Regions from separate parts of the Homo sapiens genome. Here region 2 is linked to region 1. Evidence: fine-mapped expression QTL. A gene starts in region 1. The other region holds a variant in brackets. All regions are shown on one strand. Distances are between the middles of the regions. Region 1 holds the start of MIR4432HG (MIR4432 host gene). Region 2 overlaps LOC102724142 (a long non-coding RNA gene).

Evidence for each region. PIP is the estimated chance that this variant, and not a neighbour inherited with it, causes the effect. A credible set is the group of variants that fine-mapping cannot tell apart.
Region 2: its variant is the best candidate, but not a certain one, in a credible set for the expression of MIR4432HG in whole blood (TOPMed, PIP 0.89).

The regions. Positions count from the first base shown.
Region 1 is chr2:60,389,969-60,392,883 of GRCh38, reverse strand. It overlaps MIR4432HG (MIR4432 host gene), which reads left to right and starts at 1,509. Exons shown (of 2, transcript NR_132992.1): 1 at 1,509-1,578.
Region 2 is chr2:60,396,507-60,399,421 of GRCh38, reverse strand. It overlaps LOC102724142 (a long non-coding RNA gene), which reads left to right. Exons shown (of 2, transcript XR_007086327.1): 2 at 2,606-2,915. Among named protein-coding and RNA genes, the nearest start is that of MIR4432HG, 6.6 kb to the right of the region's middle. The variant G/A (reference allele first, on the strand shown) is at 1,374.

The sequences.
Region 1 (2,915 bases):
CTCTTAAGCTGCTGGTGGGTTATATATTAATACTTACATTTTGGATGTCTAAAGTATTTTGTAGTTTCAAAAAAAAGTAGAAGACAAACTTCTCACCTCCTAGAAAACCCATAGTAGGTATTATTATGGCTCCCAGTTCACAGTCAGGTATTATTATAACCTACAGTAGGTATTATTATAACCTAGCCCAACCCAGGTTGCCAAAGTTCTATCTCTCTCTCTCTCTCTCTCTCTCTCACTTTCCACGAGGCAGGCAGCCCCAGGCTCACAGGCCAGCAGCTGAGATGAGAAGACATGGGGTTTTTCAATGACTTCAGCAGACTGTACCGGGAGGATTTGGCTAACTGGGCTTGGATCACTGGCCCCTTCCTGCCGGCAGCCCTTCCTCAGATGAGAAAATTCACAGATGAGAAAGCGAAACTTAGAGGGTGCATGGATAGTGAATGCTGGAAGAGGATTAACCTCAGGACCTTCCATCCCAGCACCTCTGGAGCACTGGCCTGCGTTGCCAGTGCTCTTCAGGCCAGCTGGGGGGAAGGGACTGAATGCCAATCTGCTCTGGGATGAACATCTGCCTCCAGGAGACAGTTGTTTAATGAAATTTCCCACCCATGTGATTAGCATCCTCTGAGAGTGAGATGAGTAAAACAGGCTACCACCATCAACATCATCTCTGACTGCACTGCCTAGACAGTAATAACACCCAAGATTTTTAGAGCTTTCTGTTTCTCAAAGTCATGCCCACTGATTCACTCAGGAACCCGGCAGGAAGCAAGGCAGTCCTTGATTGCCCATGTCGTTGAGATGGTAAAAGGGGTATTCTGAGCAACTGTTGAGTTCTTTTACATCCCTGGGATGGCATGGTCACAAAGGCCAGACACCGGGCCTGACTTCAAGGTCACTGTGGCTGCACTACTGAGTGACTGTGGACAAGTCTCACATTCTCTTGAAGACTCAGGAGCCTCCTCTGTAAAGTGGAGATGATAATTATTTCCCACCGCATGGGTGTGTTGTGGGGATTAAATGAGATCATACAAGTGGAATGCTGAGCACCAGTCCAGGAAGGCGAGGGGCACGCCCTACATGTCACCTACTGGATCATTGCTGTTTTCAGGGTTCCTATTACCCAAAGATCCACCTAGAATTCTTCCCCTGAGTGCTGTTCATCTTCGTCAAGGCTCAGCAATGTTTTGGATGATTCTCCTTTGACATAGCTCTGGTGCTTGTTAATACTAAATGTTTTCCAGCTTACCTATAAGGAAACTGAGTCTTAGGAAGCAATTGCAGGGCCTCTACTTTGTGCATGAGAATGAGTGACGGCTGGGGAAACCTGGGATTTGGCCTGATGTTCAAGCACTGGCACCTGCCTGCCTTTTCTCTGTAAACATCTGACCCTAGAATGCTCCACCAGGGCGAGACCATCATCACCAAGCAGCAGCTGCATGGTATTTATCAAAGGAGGCGTGGTTTCCTTTGCTGTGGCTCTCCGCATTCGTGGCAGTTATTCATTTTTGAAGCAGAGGTCACTTTTCTTTCACTGGTGAGGTACTTTGACAAAGACGAAGAAGGGAGACAATGGTAATGATGGTGGAGTCAGGGGGAAGTGGGGATGGGATTGGCATTGGGTTTGAAGGCTGACAGTCAGAGGAAGGGGAGGGACTGAGGATAAAATACTTGCTGTGCTCATGTTGTCCAAGAGTTTGCATTCTCTGGTAGTCAGTGATCAAATGAAGCAGGGAGTTTCGTGTTCAAAAGCAGCACCTACAGGTTCTTTATAGAGGCTTGCCAGAAGATGAATGCCTTGGCTAGAATTTGTAGGCAGGCTTATTTAAGTTACAAGTGACAGACACTCAAACTAATAATAAACAAAAAGGGAATAATTGGCTCATGTAACTGGGAAGTGCAGAGGAATATGGGATACAGGAACAGCTGGATCCAGGGGTTGGCACCAGGTTGTCAGGGTTTTTTTTTTTTTTGAGACGGAGTCTCGCTCTGTTTCCCAGTTCAGTGGTGCAATCTTGGCTCACTGCAACCTCTGCCTCCTGGGTTCATGGGATTTTCCTGCCTCAGCCTCCCAAGTAGCTGGATTACAGGCGTGTGCCACTATGCCCGGCTAATTTTTGTATTTTTAGCAGAGACGGGGTTTCACCATGTTGGCCCGGCTGGTCTTGAACTCCTGACCTCAGGTGATCCACCCACCTTGGCTTCCCAAAGTGCTGGGATTACAGGTGTGAGCCACTGTGCCCGTCCCAGGTTGCCAGGGTTCTGTCTCCCTCTCCCTCTCTCACCTTCCGTGAGGCAGGAAGCCCCAGCTCACAGGCCAGCAGCTGAGATAAGAAGTCATGTCCTTTTTCAATGACATCAGCAGACTATACCAGGGAGGGTCTGGCTAACTGGGCCTGGGTCATTAGCAGCCCTGCCTCAGGAGAGGAGCTATCTACTATGCAACACAGGGCAGTACAAGCCTCGGTTCCTCCCTGTCCACCTAGTCATGAAAATGAGGATGGTTTTGGTGGTTAGCATGTTCCCTCTTAACTTGCCTCAGCATCATCTGCAAAAACTAGAAAATATAAGTGTGCATATTTTTAGCTGTTTTTAAATTTGTAAAACTGGAAACTGTTAAGATATTTACTTAGAACAAGAAAACCTACTGTGCCCTGAGTGAAGTTCACTTAAGCTGCCTCACAGTTACTCCTTGAGTCCTCACTGTCCCGCAGTCTCCTTTCCGCTGAGTTGGGGTGAGTTCTAACTTCAATTTTGCCTGTGAATGTAAATCAAATCTGACCTCCCGTCTCCAGTACATCAAGGGTGTACTCACAGGGACCTAGAAAATATTATATATGGTCCCCTAGAGCTCAAACCCAAGTTGTCTGGGGACAGAGAAGCAACTTTGGGCCATTCCAGGGAAAAGCTCT
Region 2 (2,915 bases), 6.5 kb before region 1:
AGACTGGAGTGCAATGGCACAATCTCGGCTCACTGCAACCTCTGCCTCCCGGGTTCAAGCGATTCTCCTGCCTCAGCCTCCCGAGTAGCTGGGATTACAGGCATGCACCACCACACCCGGCTAATTTTGTATTTTTAGTAGAGATGAGATTTCTCCATGTTAGTCAGGCTGGTCTTGAACTCCCGACCTCAGGTGATCCGCCCACCTCAGCCTCCCAAAGTGCTGGGATTACAGGCGTGAGCCACTGCGCCTGGCGAGAGCACACTTTTTAAAAGGGAGGGAAGATTGGGCCTTTGAAAGCATCTTGTTTGGGCCCTCAAAGAATATAGACTTTATTTATTTACGATGGAGACTTGCTGCAACCTCTACCTCCTGGGTTCAAGCAATTCTCTGCCTCAGCCTCCCGAGTAGCTGGGATTGCAGGTGCCCGCCACTATGCCCAGCTAATTTTTGTGTTTTTAGTAGAGACTGGATTTCACCATCTTGGCCAGGCTAGTTTTGAACCCCTGACCTCATGATCCACTCACCTCGGCCTCCCAAAGTGCTGGGATTACAGGTGTGAGATGCTGCGCCCGGCCTAAGAAAGTAGTCTTTATTTCCCTTCCTGATGTGGGAAATCTGAGCTCCTGATATGTGTGTACTGGGTCTGGATCCTGGATTCTTAGGAGTGACCCGGATGTTCTGGAGGCTGTCCAGGGCCTGGGAGCAGAGGCCTCACTGCCCGTTGCTGAGGCCTGACCTCTTTGTTCAAGCAACCCCTTTGCCAAACCACCTTAGGCTACAGCACCAGGCTCCGAGAAAACCTTGGATCAAGATATTAAGAGAATAGTTCTGATACCTACCTCCCTTTCCTTTGGAAAAAGCCCAACTTTATGGACCTTTTAGGAAATATGGGAGGGGAAGGCCCATAATGTAACTTGGGCAGGAGTAGGGGGTGGGGGCGAGATAGAGGAGAATTCTTAGGGTTTTGGTTCTTGACTCTAAGTCAGTCTGTTTTTGTACTTGTGTCTTTTAAGCTTTTCCACATGTGCCCCAAGGGCCCATCGGTGAGTGTGTTTTATAAACTGGAAAAATGAATAAAAATAAGACCCAGAAGGGAAACACCAGAAGGAGTGTGAAGGGAAAAGTGTTAGTTCCTCTGTACCTCCCAGCTAGGCCTGACCTGCATTTGTGGGGGTCCCAGGGTCAGGCTTATTTGGCTTTATGGGTAAAATGTGGAGTCTTTGCTCAGAGAAAGCCTGATCAGTTTTTGTACTTGGCCTGCTCCACTCAGCATTAATTAACTTCAGGAAAGTAAAAGGTGATTCTTTTTTATTTGGCTATCTGGCTCCACAAACCTTGCTGGCTTCCTGTCCCATAGGTGCCGGATTGAT[G/A]GAACCTCAAATGTGTAAAGTCTTGCACAGGAAACCCCCCAGCATGGCCATTCAGAGGCTCTCAACTCCTGCTGGACCCAAACACAAGAAACCAGGAGGCCCAGACCCCGTCTCTCATTTTGCACCTCAGTAAACAGTACCTCGAAAGAGAACTCCATTTTCTTTTCTTAACGTTCTTCAGCTAAAACAAGAGTGTAGGGAAGGGGCTACTTGGAAAAGAGATTCTCTAAATTGCCTGAAAAATCGATCACAACCCAAGAACCAAGTATTTTGAAACACAGCATATTTAGGAAGTTTGAGGAAGCTTTAAAATATCTCCAGAAGGTTTGTGTTTAGCCCAGCACGATGTCTGTCTTGTGACCCAAAGGTTTATCTTCCGAACCTTACTTGAGCAACTTCATTAATAAAAACATTTTTGAGAATGCACATCTAACACGTATATACTTATTATAACTTTTGTACACATACTGTTGAACTAATATGTTCTGTTTTTTTAAACAGATACATATTAAATATGTATTTTTACATATTAACATTAAACAAATACATTAACATTAAACAATGTATTAACATTAAACAAATACATATTAAATATGTATTTTTAAAAACACATATCTAAACACAAATTTAAAAATTGATACCGATGAAATAAATATTTAAAAATAGGGCTGGGCGCGGTGGCTCATGCCTGTAATCCCAGCACTTTGGGAGGCCGAGGTGGGTGGATCACCTGAGGTCAGAATTTCAAGACCAGCCTGGTCAACATGGTGAAACCTCATCTCTACTAAATATACAAAAAATTAGCTGGGTATGGTGGCGGACACCTGTAATCCGAGGTACTCGGGAGGCTGAGGCAGGAGAATCGCTTGAACCCAGGAGGCAGAGGTTGCAGGGAGCCGAGATCGTGCCATTGCAGTCCATCCTGGGCAACAAGAGCAAAACTTTGTCTCAAAAAAAAAAAGATTTTGTCTATTAACTATCTGAAACCCTTTTTGTTCTCATTAAAATATATTATTATTAATCAAATTTCTAGTGAGAGCAATGGGATTGGATAGGCATGATTATTTTTAAAAATCTTGGTATAATACTTTGTGGCACAGTGAGTCAAAAGCCTGGCTCTGATTTTCAATACTTGGGCGATTATAGCTGAGAAAGATATATGAGACATATAAATCTGAATGGAAGAAGGGAACTAACTGGACTCTCATTTCTGATTCTTGGCCACTGTGAAGGCACAGGTTTTCATCTGTCACTATGTGCTAAAAGCAAACCAGCAAGTGAGGGTGTCACTGTCAACTGCTCCTTGTCGTGAGATTCCCACCTTTCCCTCAAGACATCTCAGATATCATATGTAACCTTGACCCTGTGTCCCACAGCAACAGCGGTCATTGAGTGTAAAGCCTTTTCCTTGAGGATTGTGGTAGACAGAATGCCCCCCAAAGGTGACTATGCTTGAATCCATGGAAACTGAACATGTCACCTTCTATGGCAAAAGGGACTTTGCAGACGTGATTAAGGTTAAAGACCTTAAATTAGAGGGAG